Linked DNA regions of Homo sapiens: regions 2, 3, 4, 5 and 6 are each reported to be linked to region 1. The links are microRNA targets in miRTarBase. Many come from high-throughput screens and were not tested one by one. Region 1 holds a microRNA gene; each other region holds the end of a gene's coding sequence.
The links. The annotated mature microRNA hsa-miR-450b-5p reads UUUUGCAAUAUGUUCCUGAAUA and lies in region 1 at 990-1,011, opposite strand. An mRNA with a match to its seed (bases 2 to 7 or 8) in the 3' UTR can be bound and repressed. Matches are read on the target gene's strand: a 7mer-m8 pairs with bases 2 to 8, a 7mer-A1 pairs with bases 2 to 7 and ends in A, and an 8mer does both.

Region 2: miRTarBase lists EEF1AKMT2 as a target of hsa-miR-450b-5p. Seed matches in the 3' UTR shown: 7mer-m8 at 703-709.
Region 3: the mRNA of PTPRM is a reported target of hsa-miR-450b-5p. Seed matches in the 3' UTR shown: 7mer-A1 at 399-405 and 7mer-A1 at 918-924.
Region 4: the mRNA of REEP1 is a reported target of hsa-miR-450b-5p. Seed matches in the 3' UTR shown: 7mer-A1 at 959-965, 8mer at 2,199-2,206 and 7mer-A1 at 2,429-2,435.
Region 5: miRTarBase lists UQCRFS1 as a target of hsa-miR-450b-5p. Seed matches in the 3' UTR shown: 7mer-m8 at 760-766.
Region 6: miRTarBase lists BPNT2 as a target of hsa-miR-450b-5p. Seed matches in the 3' UTR shown: 7mer-A1 at 2,647-2,653 and 7mer-A1 at 531-537.

Annotation. Positions count from the first base shown.
Region 1 is chrX:134,539,242-134,542,424 of GRCh38, forward strand. It overlaps MIR450B (microRNA 450b), which reads right to left and starts at 1,021; the gene lies at 944-1,021. It overlaps MIR450A1 (microRNA 450a-1), which reads right to left and starts at 1,190; the gene lies at 1,100-1,190. It overlaps MIR450A2 (microRNA 450a-2), which reads right to left and starts at 1,366; the gene lies at 1,267-1,366. MIR542 (microRNA 542) reads right to left here and starts at 2,196; the gene lies at 2,100-2,196.
Region 2 is chr10:124,757,833-124,761,015 of GRCh38, forward strand. It overlaps EEF1AKMT2 (EEF1A lysine methyltransferase 2), which reads right to left. Exons shown (of 7, transcript NM_212554.4): 7 at 2-2,671. The coding sequence ends at 2,671. Among named protein-coding and RNA genes, the nearest start is that of FAM53B, 15 kb to the left of the region's middle.
Region 3 is chr18:8,405,830-8,409,012 of GRCh38, forward strand. PTPRM (protein tyrosine phosphatase receptor type M) reads left to right here. Exons shown (of 33, transcript NM_001105244.2): 33 at 280-1,027. The coding sequence ends at 333. Among named protein-coding and RNA genes, the nearest start is that of RAB12, 200 kb to the right of the region's middle. RefSeq lists an enhancer at 752-1,396.
Region 4 is chr2:86,214,295-86,217,477 of GRCh38, reverse strand. It overlaps REEP1 (receptor accessory protein 1), which reads left to right. Exons shown (of 9, transcript NM_001371279.1): 9 at 368-3,183. The coding sequence ends at 439. Among named protein-coding and RNA genes, the nearest start is that of MRPL35, 16 kb to the right of the region's middle.
Region 5 is chr19:29,205,005-29,208,187 of GRCh38, reverse strand. It overlaps UQCRFS1 (ubiquinol-cytochrome c reductase, Rieske iron-sulfur polypeptide 1), which reads left to right. Exons shown (of 2, transcript NM_006003.3): 2 at 30-2,868. The coding sequence ends at 640. Among named protein-coding and RNA genes, the nearest start is that of UQCRFS1, 6.6 kb to the left of the region's middle.
Region 6 is chr8:56,960,981-56,964,163 of GRCh38, forward strand. BPNT2 (3'(2'), 5'-bisphosphate nucleotidase 2) reads right to left here. Exons shown (of 5, transcript NM_017813.5): 5 at 1-3,084. The coding sequence ends at 2,813. Among named protein-coding and RNA genes, the nearest start is that of BPNT2, 31 kb to the right of the region's middle.

The DNA of each region.
Region 1 (3,183 bases):
AAAAAGAAAGTAATGTCTAGTCATATGGACTTGCTAGAGTGCCAAATATGTCCTTGGTGGGGGAACAGTTTCCCAAAATGCTACTAAAAAGATAGGAAGGAACTTAGATCCTCCTGTAATGTGTCTCTGTCCAAATCAGTGCCACTGAGGAACGCTAAAACCTTGGTAGGTGCCCTTCAGACCATGGGCCAGGTACGTGACCAAATGGTTCCATCTCTTACCAGAACAAGGATCGCCTAAATTGAGGTGTCACATGTGTTCTGCAACACCAGAGTTACTATGGAGCTCAGCTGAATTTGCGGGAAAATGCAGGGGGGGCTTTACCCGCATCTGCAAGAAGTTGGCTGAGTGGAAATAACCTAAATAAGGTGTTTTCCTGACTTGGGCATATCTCAAACTGGCCAATGCGTCTTGAGGCCCTGGGCGAGCATCCAAGTACCACCTTCCTGAATTGCTACTAGAGGAAAAGGAGCCTGTTTCAGCTTTCTATACTTCTTTAAATGTTACTTTGATTAGACATAGATAGCAGTTTGTTTACTAATATTACTATTATAACTCTGTCGTGGTTATATTTTTTAGTTATACTTTCTCTTTTCTTTGCCAAGAGCAAATGAAAACACATTTGCACTGCAGATCCAACTGAAGTTGTACAAAGGTTTCCCAGATATGTTTGAAAAAGTATTCTAGGCCCACTGCTGGCCAAATAGGAAGTCTTCCCCCACCCTTATGTCAGGGGTTCATGCTTTAAAAAAAATACAAACTCTTTTTAAAAATAAAATGTTTTATTATTGCTATAAAAGCAATGCATTTTATTGTTTATGCAAATATTACTTGGAAAATACATAAAAGTATAAAGAGAAAAACAAACATTACCTATAATTTTATACTATAATACTGTTACAAGTTTTGGTATATTTCTTCCTAGACTTTTCTCCATATGTTGATACAAAACTATGGATGCAAAATGATCCCAATACACTTATATTACATATTCAGGAACATATTGCAAAAATAATTCTGCATCTTACATTTATCACAGAAGTAAACCACAGATAGCCGCTGTTAGATTTTTTGCTTATTCCCTCCATCTTTTCATCTGTATATTGATACAAAACTATACATGCAAAATGTTCCCAATATATTTATAGTGCATATTAGGAACACATCGCAAAAACAGTTTAGTATCGTTTTTGATTGCCTATAGTGACACAAGTCAGCGATAACCACCTCTAGACTTTTGGTATACTTCCTGATAGCCTCTTTTCCCCATATTATTGATACAAAACTATGAATGCAAAATGTCCCCAATACATTTATATTACATATTAGGAACACATCGCAAAAATAGTTTAGCATCTTTCTTTGGTCACCTTTATACCACAACTCAGAGATAATCACAATAAAGTTTTTATATGTTTCCTCCTAGCCTTTTATCTGTATGTTGATACAAAACTATTCATACAGAATGCTCCCTATATACCTATATTGCAGAGATGGGAAAATATTTTGCACCTTTTTTCAATCGCTAAATGTTTTATCAGGAGCACATTCTCATGACATGAAAATTACTTTCAGAAACATTATTTTACATGAAAGCATCCTATTCTATTGTACTAGCTAGCTACGCTGTATTTTATTTGTCTAATCCTTTGTTGTTGGTCATTCAGGATGTTCCTAACTTCCATCCTTAAAATATTGAAATGAGCATCTTTATGCATTTTTTTTAACTGGGGCTTTCTGTTCATGTAGTTTTTATGGTTTTTCTTGACCACTTGTGTGGACTCAACATACTAAAAATGACCCTGTGTCTGTAATGCTTATAGCAAAGTGTTTTCCAGTTGTTTGCTTGAGCATAAATTCTTTATTTTAGCATTCTAGCACAAGTATAAAATCATATACCTTATGTAAGTTTCAATTCATTCAACAAACATTTAAAGCAATAAAGACACAAATAAAGGCATTCCCATTACACTCCTATGAAAACACAACTCATCCTCCCACCCCATCCCATAGCAACCCCTTTCTTCTTTGCTTAGGGCCCACTTTCCTCCTGATCTTTTCATTGATTCGTCTTGTAATACTTACCACATGTTTTGCTATGAAGATGAGTGGCTCCCAGACCTTTCAGTTATCAATCTGTCACAAGTGCACACTGGTATCTCGTGACATGATGATCCCCGAGATGTCTGAGATCTGTGCATCCTTGACCGATCCCAAATTTCTGTATCACCCATGACCCCTAAAGACTTTTTAGAGAATTATATTTTGACAACATAACAAGAAAACGTGGCATCTCACACACACACACACACACACACACACACACACACACACACACACACAAAACCATGAAAAAGTAGAGAAAGAAGAAACTTCAGCTCTAATCCCACCACCCTTAAGTAACAAGTATGTCTGTTTTGCAGGTTTCCTCCAGGTTCTGCTCCTATTTTTCAATCATGGTGTCCATGTGATTTTGTGGCCCTGATTTTTTTTAAGTTGATATCATAAGCATTTTCCAGGTTTCTGTATATTCTCTATCATTATTATTTGCAATGGCTGAAAAAGGTTCCATTGAGTGAGTGACTAGATTAAGTCAACCCCTATAGCTTGACACTTCATTTGTTTCCTTAAGATAATTTGATTGAATCTACAGAAAATAACAAACATGGGACAGAGGTTTAAAATGAATTTAAATCATGCTTTTTTGGTTTGTGCAGATTGACTTGTACACGGCTGGGTAACTTATAGTCACTATTTAGTAATCCTGGGGCCAATCTTGGGCCTCACCCAGGAAGTGTCCAATGTATAGGCCAAAGCTCATCATAAGACTAGCCAGTTTCACCGGGAATTTTTGTAACCAAACACATTCACCTCCATTTCCTGCTCTGGTCACTACTGCATAGTCGGTTCTGATGAACAGGTAATGACATAAGGAACACAGTATGAGGCCTGGAGGAAGAGCCCCCAGAGAGTAGCCTCAGACAAATCCTTAACCTCCAGAGGCCCCAGTTTTCTTGTCTGTAATTATTTTTTGGACTGCCTTAACTCTGTTTGTCTTTCAAGGTTGTCACAAATTAAAAAAAGAAAAAAAAGAAAAAACAAAGTATTTGGAAAAGTATGTAAACACACGATACAAAGGCAAGATGTTGGGATACTGATGATTCTGTGGCCACGCCTTTAGAA
Region 2 (3,183 bases), not on the chromosome of region 1:
CTTATTTTTAAATGGCTTTAGTCAGGCTGCCAAGAGTGATATCAGGTTTGATTCTCACATACATAAATGCCAGTCCCAAAAAGCAACTCTAACTTGTGCACCTGGCTTAAAACAAAATGTACTGAAAACTTTGTATTTGTTAATTGGGATAACCCACCCATTCAGGCCTCAATTCCCTTTGGACTTGCACACGCACTTCCTACACACAGAAGTGGCCTGTTATGCAGCAATAATCATAGTGAAAAGCAGCAATTCCGTGAAGGCTCCACAGAGAAATCGCGTTTGCATTTCAAACAAGTTTCCTCAAAGTAAGCGTCTTTCGATTAAATGAAATCACAATTCCAGCTTCTTATCCACAGAAAACAGCATTCACTATGTAACTTACTGCTTTTTATAAGTGCATAATTTCTGTCACAGTTACCCACATATTTATACAATTTAACAATACTAAGTTAAATAATGTATTTATGGTTTGTTTCAGGAACCTGGTGACACTTGCTGGCCTGGTTTTTACAGTTTGGTATTATGTGAAAATACTAATTTCTTATTAGCATTTTTGGACCTTCCATTTGTTCTGGTTTTAGTCCCTAAGAAGCTAGCTTCCAGCAGGATTAGAGTAATAAGAAGAGATGACAACTTCCTTTTCCTAACCTTATCAAAAGCTCTATGGTTAAAAAAAAAAAAAAAAAGAAAACCTTCACCTTTGCAAATGGCACTAACATGCCCCAAATAGTGACTCGAAAAGCTTTTCAACAAAGAACCATTCTAAGCTTTTTGTGAATCAAACTCAACATCTCAGTCTAGTCACACAGAAAGCCTAGTTTGTAGGATTAGCACATTAAAATAGCATATACTTAACTCAAAATTCTAAGAGTACTTATCTATGTTATATTTGAAATCAAAGAATATTAATGTGAAAAAAAACAAAGACCCGATCTCAAAAACTATAAAAGTTTCTACAGTTTAAGATCTCCTGTCTTGGTAAAATCAACACAATCTTCTAAAAAATTTAAATTGCATATATTTTGAAGTAATTTCTCACTTTTTACATGTTGAAAATAAAAGCTTTTCAAAAAATGTTATTTTTGTTGACAGTCCACATACATGTCTTCAACTATCTTGTCTTAATGGTTGATCAATGTTGATCTAAATGAAAAACTCACTCCTCTGGCTACCCCTCCCCAAAAAGAAAAGGGACGTAATGTTAGACTTACTCAATACAGGAGTAACATTTGCCAAACAAAAAGTCACTTATGTAACCCAATAGGCCCACAAAGCTGAAAATCATCAAAAAATTATGCAAAAATTTGTATTTAGCTCCAATATTAAAATATTACCACAAATACAAAATGGTATTAAGTATGAATATGACTTATCTTTTCAAAAACATTAATAAACTGTTTCTCTTGCCAAATTAGCCCCTAACTAGAACATCTTTGTGCATGTATCGCTGAGGGCTTATATAACTTACACTACCCTTTCACAGAAGAATGACAAAATTCTTAATAGAGGCAAGTCTTTGAGTAGGGAGATGGGGAAAAGTAATGAAGGATGATATGAGACAGAGTTGGCTGACTGCTATTCTGATACTCCACAGATGAACACTAATAAAGTAACTACCCATCTTTTCTAACTGAACTTTATATGTAATCATCATGGGTCTCCAGCTGTACTGTAAATGCTACAAAGGCAAAGACTAAGCACCTGTGAGGCAGAATATGCTAGGAGAAGAGTATGTGTTTTAAAGTCAGACAGACCCAGATAAAAATCCTGGCTCCATCCTGTACTGTTGAACCTCATAAAAGTGACTTCACTTCTCTCAGCTTCATTTTCCTTATACGTAGAAACAAGAACAAGCAATACATACCTCAAGAAGACATTGAAAGGACTCAATTACTTAATAAGACAACTTAACATAGCGCTAGCAAATAATAACATTCCTTAGTTCTCTTTCCTTCTACTACCCTTACAGTGTGTAGAAGACCATAGCTGCAAAATGCAGGCTTGATAACTTGAGCAACTGATACATTTCTCTGATTTTGTTTAATTATATACATAAAGGTAAGAGGCCTTTTCACAGGTATTAATTAAGTTTAAAAATAACCGCCATCCAACACAAAATAGTATTTCTTGTTATATTTCATAAACAGTCTAACAAAACACTAACAAAGTTATTTTGCTTATTATTCTGATGCTGGAATAATTTGGTCAAATATTCATAAATAGTTATCAACTTTACCAAGGCACAAAAATCAAGAATACATGCTTTCTATAAACTCATTTACTACTTTAAAGTTTTTAACTGTTTAGCAGTTATAGGAAATTTTTTTAATCGAAAAGAAAACTATTTACATTTCAAATACAAAAGAAAATTAAAATTATTCTTGATTGATCTCTAAAACCCAACCACTTAGATGCTCATTATTATTATTTTCTTTCACCAATCCAGTATACTCTATTCAACATGTGCATCCTGTGTACTTACTAAGCATTTATTTGCACAAGGATTTTCTGTGTCAGGTTAACTTTGCTGTGTAGATTCTGTGTAGCTACCTGAATTCGTCCAAGAAAAAGTCTCACATTTTTTGGAAAACCAATGCTGCTACACTGTTTCCAGATCTGCCTCCAAAGCTGAACTTGGGTGTTGGTAGCTCTTCGAGAAGTTCAAATCCTGTCAGACAAAATTTAAATACTTTTATTAAGAATTGAGTCTCATACTTACATGTATTTATATGCATGCATTAACACTGTACCATTGAACCCTTTGTAAAACTATGATTCCAAACTCTAAATTGTGCTGAATTTCACTTCATGATTTTTCAATTCTACTATGTATGTACAGCATATGTATGCTCCTCCAAAATCACTTTGAATTTAACAAGGAAAAGACAAGACCAAAAACAATTTGGAAAAAACAGGCTTTCCATCCACCTCCCATTTCCTCCACTTCCTGTTTGTCATCTCTGCAAAGCTGTATCTCTGTTAGCCTCTATCACCTGGTTTGTAGGAAGCAGCTAGCATGTGTCGAGTTTTTTTGTTTGTTTGTTTGCTTTTTGAGACGGAGTCTCACTCCATCACCGAGGCTGGAGTGCAGTGGCACAAGCTCAGCTCACTGCAACCTCTGCCTCCAGAGTTCAAGCGATTCTCACTTCAGCCTCCCAAGTAGCTAGAATTACAGTTATG
Region 3 (3,183 bases), not on the chromosome of region 1:
TACATGTGTGGACAAACATATTTAGAGTTCCAAGTGTCCAGAACCTTCCGGGAATTCTAGCCAGCACAGGTAGCAAAATACCTTCCACCCAGCATTGTGGGGAGCATCTCCAAACAGTGAATGTATCTGGAGTTCAGAACCGTGACTTTCTGATTCATTTCTAATTCAAATCCTCCCAGATTGATGTCTTCCCATTAAGACCCTACTCTATGGTAATTGCTTTACTAGGAACAGCGTTGAGATATTCTTGAGCTGACACTTTCCCCTCCTGTTTTCCAGGATCAGTACAAGTTCTGCTACGAGGTGGCCCTGGAATACTTGAATTCTGGCTGATGGTGTAAACAGCTCTGCAAACAATCCCTTTCATACCACAAAGCCAAGACGTTCCATGGTATTTGTGCAAAAGAGATGAAGACTTCTCAATATGCTTATTTTGCTTTGCATAATTGGCTCTTTTTAAGAGCCCAAGAAAGTGTTTCTAAAATTGCTTGCACTGCCCAATCCCAGTAATGCTGCTGCCTGACAGAAACACACACACAGCCACAGTTGCCAAATCCCGTACTCCTTGCCACCGGCTTCCTAGAGCAGCGTAGACAGCTGGTAAACTGAAGAGCACAACTATATTCTTATGAAGGAATTTGTACCTTTGGGGTATTATTTTGTGGCCCGTGACCCTCGTTATTGTTACAGCTGAGTGTATGTTTTTGTTCTGTGGAGAATGCTATCTGGCATTATGGTAATATATTATTTTAGGTAATATTTGTACTTTAACATGTTGCATAATATATGCTTATGTAGCTTTCCAGGACTAACAGATAAATGTGTAATGAACAAAGATATGTTGTATGAGTCGTCGTTTCTGTCAGATTTGTATTGTTTCCAAGGGAAAAGCTTGGGGGAGGACTCAGTTCACAAAATGCAAAACTCAACGATCAGATTCACGGACCCAGAGCTTTTCCATGTGTTTATATTGTAAATATTTTTGATTTCATCAAATTATTTATTCATTAAAAGAAATTTTTGTGAAGCACAGTGAGTGACAATCATTTTTCTTAAGGCCTGGAAACGATTTTCTGTATGATGTTACTTTATGTGAATTCTCATCTCAATAAATGATGACCCGTGAGCAGCCGTGGCATGTTCCTGGTGTCCCAGTGCACAGGCGGTGGAGGCCGCACCCGACACGCCAGCACACAGGGGGAGAGAGTGCGGCCGGGGCCTGTTTGCCGGAGCAAGTAGAGTAGAGTTTTTTTGAGAGAGAGTGTTCGTCAGTGAGAGCACTGAGCCCTTCACGGTGGCCTGCCCTGGTGCCGGGGAGGCTCAGCCATGAGCCTGCACCATGGGGCGTGAGCCCTGACCTTGTGGGGCAGCCAGGCCAGGGGCCATGGCAGAGACTTGCTAACTGGAGCATCGTCTTCCTTTCTCTGTTTCCCCTCAGTCTGCGGGGGATAATATCTCTCTTCTCTATGCCTCAGGCCAACCTAAGACTTGCTGAGAGAACAGTTTTTAAAGGGTTAGAGAATCAGAGTGCATTGAAGGACACCGAGCTGAACAAGTTCCCACCAGAGCACCTGCTCTGCGCCACCCTGGGCTCTGGCCGCTGACACAGAAGGCAGGTGCACGGTGGCCTTGCAGCTTGCATTTAGCTTGGGTTTTAGGCTGTGTTAACGATTGCCAAGAGCTGACAGAGGCAAAGCTCTGTCGAACACCTCTTGTGAACCAGATACCATGCAGAGCATCTTCCTGTGTGGTAGCACGTGCTCCCCAAACATGAGCCAGGTACAACTGCGAAACCCACCTGACAGATGAAGAAACTCAAGCTAGAAAAGATTAAATAACCCGTCCAAAGTCACACTGGCTAGCAAGTGCCAGAAGCCTCCAGAGCCCATGGGAGGTGGAAGGGCAGCACCCTCACCATGGCAGAGGAGCAGAGTCTGCTAGTGCCGAGACAGAGACTGGCCCGCCACCCGCTGTGGGAAGTGGAGAGGCTTGAGGGCACTGTTCCTGCCTGCTCTGGGGATCTTGGTGACCAAAGACTTCAAGGGCAGAGGTTGCCCTCCAAGAGGACTGACCTGGACATCTGCGTGTTAGACCTTTACTGCTTCGCTGTACCCTGAGCAATCTATATGCCCCGATTGGTGTAAGTTTCTCTAGACCCCTCCTTAAACTGGGTGGGTGGGACCCTGTCCTCCCCCAGGAAGAGCTGGCTGCAGCGGAGCTTCGAGTCTGTACTCAATGCCTCACATTCAGACTCCTCCTGGAGGATGGCCCCTCGCCATCCCACCCAGTTCTCTTTGCTAAGCTCCTAAGAGACTAGCAGGCTGCTATTTTTGTCTGTCCCTCTTCCAAATGATTTCTCCAGGATATAGGAATAGGGATGAAGACATATGGACCGCTGCACCCTTTGCGGGTGAGCTGGGCCCTGACCAGGGGAGTGTGGTGAAGCCCTTGGCCCTCCGTGATCATGGCGGCGTGGCTCTGGGCTCCAGTCCGTCAGCATGGGTGAAAAGACGGCTCATCTGAGCATGGCGAGGAAGTGACCTCAGATGTGTGAGTCTAATGACACCGCCACTTCCCAGTCATTCCCTGCGTCGTCATACCCCGGTCTCACATGGGAGCCAGTTGTTTTCAATCTCTTGGATTTTTATCTTTCTTTCACTTATTTCACCTTTTAGCGGAAACAGTGATAGAAAAAAAAAGGCACAGGCATTTTGTGGCTTTTTCAGATTTCCCACGAGGCCTCACAGCATGGTTGAGACCTGTTATTTCCAGTACACTGAGAAAGTCTCTGCCCCTCGCAAGCAAGAGAAGCCACCCTCTTGGCTGAGAGTCCTTCTCTGTCTTCTCGCAGTGCTCTGGGTTCCCCTCTGTTGTGGCATCCGGAACCCCCCAGACACTTCAAAGCCTGTGACTGCTCTGGAAGCTGATGGTCCTGCCCCTGGCACGGTCCCCCTCTAAGTCAGCTTCACAGCAGCACCTCATGATGCTTTTGTAACGTGTCAGCACAGCAAGACTGAGGTGTGTTTCCAGAATTCCATTCTCTGTATATTTCCAGATGGGGTGCGCTGCAGGGGTCATTTGGTGTAAGACGTAGAGGCAGAAGGGAAACAGCAGCCACATTGTTTTTACACTCAGAAAGTGGAGCAGCTGTGGGCCCCGCAGGTGAATAACAATGGTGTGAGC
Region 4 (3,183 bases), not on the chromosome of region 1:
AAGGAAATAACAAAAGCAAAGGAAGCATGCGGAGGTGTCTCTTTCTGCTGAATCATTTAAGATAATTTTGCTCCTCAGGCAGAAACAAGAAAGATGTGTCATTCTGCACAACCGTTCCCTTGGGAGATTGAGGAGCATAATTTAAGAGGGAGGCATCAGCCTCTCAAAGGGCTCAGCTTCATGCGATATGTGGGATGGGACTCTGATGATTGCTTCCTGTTGCGGAGATTCAGGGAGACCCCAGCCCTAGCCAGCTGCATTTGGCCAAAGGAGCTGGAAGTCTCAACACAATGCCTTCCAGGTGCTGACCTCAAAAGATCCCACATTTACACCAAACTGAGGGACACCTTTCTGTTTTCTCTACCAGGCACCGCCTAGAATCCTTCGATCTCGCTTCAGGAAGAAAAGTACCTCATCCTCGGCCACCGAAACCACGTGAGTGAGATGAGCCAACAGCACCGGATCCACAGAATGTTTCTTCTCTGCCTTAAAGAGCTATTCACTAATAACATAGAAATCCGCAAGCTGGGTGTGCTTTGAGTGTGCAGCCTCACAAACATGGCCTTTTCTCTCTCCCCTTCCACTTTTAAGGATTTATTTTTTTCCCCCTTTTCTTTATTTTGCTGGGGAGAGGCTAAAGGGAAAGGTAGTAGGGGCGGGGGTGGTGACCTTTAAGTCTTCTGAGGTTGGTAATTTTCCACAATTGGATTGTCATTATAGACAGCAGTGTGTTTTTTAGAAAGATAAGAGAATCACCCCTATGCTGCTGAGATGTACATTTGTAATTTATCTGTTGCATACTTAGTTTTTAGTCCTGTAAATGCAAACACAGCATTTTTTACAACTTTCTTTGTTCTTGGTACTTATACTTTGAACTATGATGTACATATTTATGGCTTTTGGCTTTTAATATAATGGACTTGCAAGGGCTGCCAGAGGTTCTGATATGTAAGAAAACTGCAAAAACAAATATAGACAAATATTTTGATTCTAGAGAACGTCTCAGATGTGCTTATAAAGCTTCCAAATACAACTCCAGTAAGACATCCCTTTCCCTGCAGGAGTGTGGTCTATATTCTTTAGATAGTTGTTTAGTCAAAAGACCAGACAAGTTACAAACTAAGAGAAACAATATTTCACAACACAGTAAAGTGTGATGAGAGGTCAGGGGAACATCCCAGTAAAAGAGAAGAGTCACAGGAAGCTCATCTCCTCCCTGGATTCTGGATTAGGAGCTTCTGAATCTTTTCCAGGGATAGGCAGGTAGCTCACTCTTGGTGCAATTTCTTGAGGATGGGAACATGTAGAGCTGCTGGAAGGAGTAATTCTGTGCTTGACAAAGGACGATTTCTCCTTTATCGTGACCAGTGCTGCCGATTTCCTGACAGAGGAGCTTACACTCTGAGCACCTTGTTTTAGCGAACTCTAGCAAAACTTGTTTAGCTTAGCAAAAACAAACACACAAAAAACTGAGAACTCTGCTGTTTCAGATATGCCATAACATACATCTGAAACACATGTGTAACAATCAAAATGGTGGGCTCTAGAATGGTTTTGGAGCTCGAGATCTTCATGGGTTAGACTTGCTGGTCAGACCCAGGAGCACCTGTGGCTCACACCTTCTGTTCCCCTCCTGGCCTGTGCAGAATGTAAACAGCAGACTCATACTCAATGGGCACTACAGGCCTTATCAGACGTTTTATACAAGCCTGGATTGCTTAGTAGGGGAATAAGGCATTCTCTGAGGGGGCTTTCCACTTAGATTGAGAATTTTATTTGAAAAGAATCTGGTTTAAATGGCATTGTGGTCCGAGGTAGCTGCTCTCCCCACTGAGAGCTGAGCCGAAATATAAGAATAATATATTTGTGCTTCGAGTTGGTGTTTCTTTCAGTGTAATGCATGCAGTGGTCACAACCCAGTTACTCATAATATTTGGATTGTATTTGTTCGTAGATATGCCCAGAAGACTAGAGAATTAGTGTTATATACCATATAGAACTTACTGTCAGTCAACTATAAACAGGCCCAATTAAAAACTGTTCCATTACTACGCAAACACATATTAGAGGCCTTTGCTGATGACACATTAGCTGGATCTTAGCCACCCCAGAAAGGGTTTGATTTGAAGCTGATTGTTGCCAGATATGCATATTGGAATCCCATCTACCCATAGTTCCTCTGAAGGTGATTTTGTAATTTGCAAAAGGGTATAGGAAAATATACCTAAAAGCGAATTTGTGGCTGAGAGGATAAACAGAAGCTGTTTGCTCATGTTCTGTGCCCCACACCCACCAATACCTAAATCTGTTAAGGAAGACAGAAAATGTTTTCTTTGTGCTCATTGAGTAGTTCCAGACAGAAGAAGAATATACTCTTTAAAATGTATTTACCTGTTAGTTGGAAGTACCCAGAATTATCAGAAACGAATGCAAAAAAAAAAAAAAAAAAAAAAAGCTTACACAGCTTCTTAGCAATTTTTTTTTTTTTGCCGAAACAATAAATTGCCTTTAGCAGCAGTTTAAAATCCTATCGTGAACAACCTATATTTTCGCCATTTTACAATGGAGAGTTGTGACAAGTACAGGTTATCAAGTTTGCACTTAACTATGCCAAAAAAAGTTTGAAGCGCTCTATTCTCAGACATGCTGTATTATTACTTCTCATTCAAGATTGAAAAATATAAAGGTATCCAAACTCTGTCTTAATGTAAATGTAACTATTTTTCCTTCAAGTGTTGACTAGGGAGTCGGTTTCTCTCTTAAAGACACTCACTGTACAACTGAAAGCAGCTGTCATATTTCTGGCAAAATGTGTTTACGTATCTGACAAGTTGTACATTTGTGTATGAACTGACATAAAATGTGAAAGCCTGTAAGTGTACATGTAGTGGTGTGGTGTTCTGTCTAGAGGATACAACTGAATGTTTTTAATTTGCTGACTTACAGACACAGGCTGTTTACAAAATGCTAGCTGGAAAGTCTGTAATGTTCATGTCATAACTTTTAGTTAATTGCCATTGAGCACCTGTTCTGAGGAGGTGAGATGTGGACTTGTGCTTATAAACTGGAGAGTTTAGTCATAATCCCTCCTGGCTTTGTGTGAATAGCTTGCTCACTTTGCTGGCCTTTGAAATGTGTTCTCCGTGATAAGCTATCCATGTGTTTGTGATAAGAGTGCTTGTC
Region 5 (3,183 bases), not on the chromosome of region 1:
TGTTTTTTAACCTTCTGTTTGTCTTGCAGTCCCTGCTTCTGTTTGTTATTCCCACACAGACATCAAGGTGCCTGACTTCTCTGAATACCGCCGCCTTGAAGTTTTAGATAGTACGAAGTCTTCAAGAGAAAGCAGCGAGGCTAGGAAAGGTTTCTCCTATTTGGTAACTGGAGTAACTACTGTGGGTGTCGCATATGCTGCCAAGAATGCCGTCACCCAGTTCGTTTCCAGCATGAGTGCTTCTGCTGATGTGTTGGCCCTGGCGAAAATCGAAATCAAGTTATCCGATATTCCAGAAGGCAAGAACATGGCTTTCAAATGGAGAGGCAAACCCCTGTTTGTGCGTCATAGAACCCAGAAGGAAATTGAGCAGGAAGCTGCAGTTGAATTATCACAGTTGAGGGACCCACAGCATGATCTAGATCGAGTAAAGAAACCTGAATGGGTTATCCTGATAGGTGTTTGCACTCATCTTGGCTGTGTACCCATTGCAAATGCAGGAGATTTTGGTGGTTATTACTGCCCTTGCCATGGGTCACACTATGATGCATCTGGCAGGATCAGATTGGGTCCTGCTCCTCTCAACCTTGAAGTCCCCACGTATGAGTTCACCAGTGACGATATGGTGATTGTTGGTTAAGAGACTTGGACTCAAGTCATAGGCTTCTTTCAGTCTTTATGTCACCTCAGGAGACTTATTTGAGAGGAAGCCTTCTGTACTTGAAGTTGATTTGAAATATGTAAGAATTGATGATGTATTTGCAAACATTAATGTGAAATAAATTGAATTTAATGTTGAATACTTTCAGGCATTCACTTAATAAAGACACTGTTAAGCACTGTTATGCTCAGTCATACACGCGAAAGGTACAATGTCTTTTAGCTAATTCTAATTAAAAATTACAGACTGGTGTACAAGATACTTGTGAAATCTGTAACTGACTTTATTTTCTTGCCCAAATATTTGCTTCCTGCTTTGCGTCAGGGACGCAGATTCTGCACGGTCATTGTTGGGATGAAGTAAAATTAACGGGTCATCTAAGTGTCTATGGCATTGACAGAAACAGTAGTATCTAGGTATTCCTTATTTACCGGACTTGGTAAGAGTCCTGGCTATGCATTTCCTCCCTACTGTGTAAGCCGTGTGATAATCTCAACACTAATCTGTGGGAAAGAGTCCTGAATGAGGCATTAGTAGCTCTGAGGGTTTATCTTCACGTCTGGTCTGCTGGTTTTTCTCCTTAAGTGACAGGCCAGGAAATTTTATTAGTCCCTTATGAGTGTAAATTAGTACTTAATCCTTTAGTCTTAATAGGCAGTGATGGGATATTACCTGAGAGAAACTTTCCAAAATGAGAGTGCTCTGCCATTTCGTTCATTTTGTGTGTGGTTCATCATGTCCCCAAAGTTCCTGCATCCACTCTATCAGGAGGCAGAAAGGGAGCATCTGAGACCTAATACTGCCTGCATGCAGAAGTGGTCCTGCTGGGTTTGTTTCTGTAGTGATGACACTTTGAATGTTTTTTCCTGTTGGGTTTACAGTCACTCAGCACTTTTCACTGTAAGATGGTGTGGAACCAGACGCAGAGCACATCGGAATTCACATCCTATTCTGCCTCCAATTACACAGGTGAAACAAGACTAAGGTCCATTTTCCCCTGGGAGTTGGGAGTGGGCTTTGTCCTTTGAGAATCACAGTCACTTTTTGATGTGTTTGTCTTTGCTGTTTAGAGGTGGACCAGTCGTGCTTTACTGAGTCTACCTGATAATCTCATGTACACTTTTTTAAAATGGCAAAAATGGTTAGGTTGGGTCTGCCCAAAGGGAACTGACCATCCAGGATTCCAGCCTTTGATGTTAATAGCTAGGTGTTGACAGAAAAAAGAAAATGTCAAACTTTCTATGCTTATGAGTAGATACTAGTCTTTGCTTCATTTTTACCATTCTAGAAATGAAATTAGCATGTGTGATAATTGGTGGGACACAGAAGTATTTTATATTCTGTGTCTCTAGATAGTGGAGGCACTCTTCGGATTGGGGGTTGGAGGAAGGGTTGGTGGCAGAGTTGGAATGTGAAACATTGAGTTGTGAGGGGAACACAGGTCCACACACTAAAAAACCTGTGCTGCCAAAAATGTCAACAGCACCCCCTCCCTATAGAGAAATACTGATAACCTATATCACCTCCCACCCTGAAGTGATACCTTGAAATTCTACATGGCAGTGGAGGACAGAAGTAGGAAGTTTGCAGGTCTCTAGGTACTCACTTAGTGCCGGAATTGCTATATTTGGTGGCTGCTTACTTCATCTTTCATATTTAGAGTTTGATGGTGGGATGCTGTTAAATTGTAGTAGACCATTTAGTTTTTAAAGAAGGCTTTGTTCCACAAGTGACAGGACAAGTCAAGTCACTTCATGCTGTTTTGCTGAATGGATACGGCAGACCTGTGTTAACATTTTTACCATTCTGTGAAAACAAAATCCTAGATAGTAGGAGAAAATTACTTACAGAATAAACCTGACCAGCTAGCACCCTGACATCAGATCATTAACCTACTGCATTTTATTGGGGATAATTCTTGGGACAATCTTGAGAGCCAAGTGTTTTCATTATGCTTTAAAAAGTGTTATAAAAATGGCCTTTTTGAAAATGTTGCATTATTTGTTAAAGATAACATCAAATTTTCTTTGGTCTTTCTGAGCATACCTTTGTAAAAACTTTGACTCAATCTGAGTGTATAGAGGGCATTTGTCCTGACTGGATCAAAATGTGCTTTAGTACCCTCATTTTTCTAAACTGTAGGAACATACTATTTAAATATCAGAAGTAATTCTTCATTCTCACAGTACTAAATTTCATTTTCTGTATTTTCATGTCGTTTGAATTTCATTGCATTTTGTATATTAACCCAAAATAATGTTTATATTTTATGGACTGTTATCCTTAGCCCACTGTTCTAACACACTTTATCACCACCTATTTGCTGGTGACTCCCCACAACCACTTCCCTGAGTTTCATATTCATGTGCTTACTGGGCATATATGTTTGGATGTCCTGTTGACACCTTAAACTCAAACTGTCTGAAAGGAAAAGATGTCATCTCTGTTTCCAATGAACCAGCTTCTCTATTTTAGTCAGTTGCCTCTCCATCGACCTTGTTAACTACCCGCCAGGCGAAAAA
Region 6 (3,183 bases), not on the chromosome of region 1:
GAAGTATCCTGGCTAAGAAAGAAAAGCAGAGATAAAGGAGAACATGAACCGGTAAGGGAAATGGTCACAAGGTAGAAGAGATGAAGAAGGGCAGAGGAGGGGGACAGCTGATGGGTACTGAGATCACTGATGTCACTGCCTCTACTAAATGTGGTGCATAAAAGTCATATTTTAAGAAAAATTGCCTCAAAATAAGGGCAACAGTGAAGAAAAGACCAGGAGCTGGTGAGGTGTGGGTCATTAAAAGCAAAAGGTAATGACTTTGCTACTTTTTAGAAATAATTTTAATGTAATTCTGGGAGATAACATTACTCATTCATGAAGGTGTTTTACTAGGATGCTATGGCACAATGTCTTGTGTAAATAAATATAAATACTGTTCCTAATTCTGCAACGTATATTGGCTTTTAAAAACAAACAATTTTAAAAATGAACTTTTTATAAAAGTACTTAAAAAAAATCATTAGTAACTAGACTATACCCAACATATTATAAAAATAATGTATTTAACTCTCAACCAATACCTTAAGTTTTGCACACAACACACACCCTTCACAAAGTCATTATCTAGATGCAGATTAATACAATTAAAAATAAAAATAAAATCATCACTTTGGGAGGCCGAGGTGGGCGGATCACCTGAGGTCGGGAGTTCGAGACCAGCCTGACCAACATGGAGAAACCCTGTCTCTAACAAAAATACAAAAAAATTAGCTGGGTGTGGTGGTGTATGCCTGTAATCCCAGCTACTTGGGAGGCTGAGGCAGGAGAATCGCTTGAACCCGGGAAGCAGAGGTTGCGGTGAGCCGAGATCACGCCATTGCACTCCAGCCTGGCCAACGAGAGTGAAACTCTGTCTCGAAAAAATAAAATAATTCCTGCTAATATGAACTAGTTTGCTTCCCATTAAATCAGAGTTCCCATAAAACATTGAAATTAAATTCCATTTTTTACTTGCCAGTCCCATTTCCCTAACTTTGACATACTATAATAAAAACAGATGCTTATACCACAGGACTCTGGCAACAGCATATACCTTTGCCATCTCTCCTGAAAAAGAAAGTTTCTTCAGCTTATTGCAAAGGAAAAAAATGAGGTCTCTGATACTCTTTTCAAAATTTTCAAGTCCTATTTAAATATCAAGTGTTCCACCTACCAAAACTTTGAATGAATTTTCACTGAAAAGGCCTACTGCTAAGGCCCAACACCTTCTCGAATTTGACCAGTTGCAAGAGATTGGGTGAAAACATTTGTGTCATATTAGATTCAGTTTACTAATAAGAAAGTAAAGGGCTTTGGACAATGTAACATACAAACCTAAAGTATGCACATTCCACCAGGCTAGAACGTACATTCTTTGGTCAATTTTACTTCCAAGATGGGAAAATAAAGGGTAAGCTGCTTTATGGTTAAAAAATTTAGCAAAGAAAGAAACCGTGAGAAATCCCTCTCATCAGCATGTTATGGAATACAAGGGCACTGGAGTCACATGAAATAACGGCATGGGTAGTTTACATGAAGTTTCCAGATTTCACATTGAGAGAAACCATACATCCCAATGAAAGACAGTTCACAAAGCAAGGTTCTAGTTACGGTAACACAATGAATATGTCACAACTTTTTTTTTCTAACCAGACTAGAAAAAAATTTCATCAAAAAGTACCTTCAACCTTCTCTATTTTAATCTGAGGGGAAATTAAGAGAATCTCAAAAGTTACTACAGAGTTTGGGTAGGCTAGATACATTTATTAATAGTAAAAGCAACCATGGCAAAAGCAACCATACTCATTCTTGATAATGAAAGGATCTTCTATATACAAACCTAGCAAATTAAAAAAAAATACTAAAACAAAGTGTCTGAAGATAATGAAAGGCAGTTCAATTCATGTAATGTCAAGTAACTTTCAATTGTAATAGAATCATTTATATTCTTATAGTGCCTTACAGCATATTTTATCGTTAATGAGAAAATGAACCAAAACTATAGTGCTAACCCTGAAACCTTAAACCGAACCTTACAAAGTTAAAGACTAAGTGTTGGTCAGAAGGAAAAGGATGCAACCATGCATCTTCCACAGGGAAAATGAAAATAGCAAGATGGCAGAAATGCTGAACTCATGGGTACAAACACACTTTTCTTTATAAAAACAAAACAACACACACACATACACACAGAAATTATTACAATGCAAATCATCATGTGTCTCTATTTTCTACCAGCTGGTGAACCTGTTATTAAAATTTAAAAGAAAAAATCAATTAAACTTTTTCTATTTTAATCCATAGAAATATTCAGTAACATAAATACAACATTTGTTGCATATTAATGAATGTGTGGCTTCTTGTGCTTTCCATCCAAATTAGAGGTAAAAATCCCCAATGACTTTATTTTCAATGAGATATAGTTGTAAAGTTATATTAAACATCTACACAAAAATCAATCTTTCCTTCAACCGAATTCTATATGAAAGTACTAACAGTGAAGATTCATGATGTTGTGTGAAAATGGTGACTCATAACAATGTAGACTCAGCTACAGATTTTAATTCACAAATATATATATGCGCCTTGTGTATGACAACTGTATGAAAATAGTCTCAAAAATAAAGACAATACTTGAGACACAAAGCAACCCATTTTCCCTGATTTTGCATTCTATTACAGGGAAAATAAGTCTCTGATGCTTCATAAATACTTTAAAAAGTTCGGGATGGCCTTAACCATGCATAGTCTCCACCAATCCTTTGAAGCTTCCAGCATCTCAGGCTAACCATTTCAGCTGTGAAGAACTGTACCCTGTAATCAGTTATGCTCATTTATGTCCTGTCTTTTCTAGATCTGGGAGTTTTCTGACCAGGGCCTGGTGGTTCATTCTGATGCTAGCAAGGAGTCCCCCTTCAATGCCGTCTGAACCAGTGTAACTGATTTCTTCACCACTCAGGGTAGTCATATGCCCCCCTAGGGCTTTTAAGATGGCATTACCAGCACATATATCCCACTTTTTGATGTATGTCACATGGATGTATAAATCAGCTTTTTCTTGACTCTTATCAGGCACATCCAAAAGTGCTAAAACTTTATAACCTAAAAGATAAACAAAGAATTTAGGTTATTATTCAAAAAATTTTAAGAAAGTAGCATACTTTTTTGATTAAGTATCCTGTTAAAATAGCAGGATGGAGT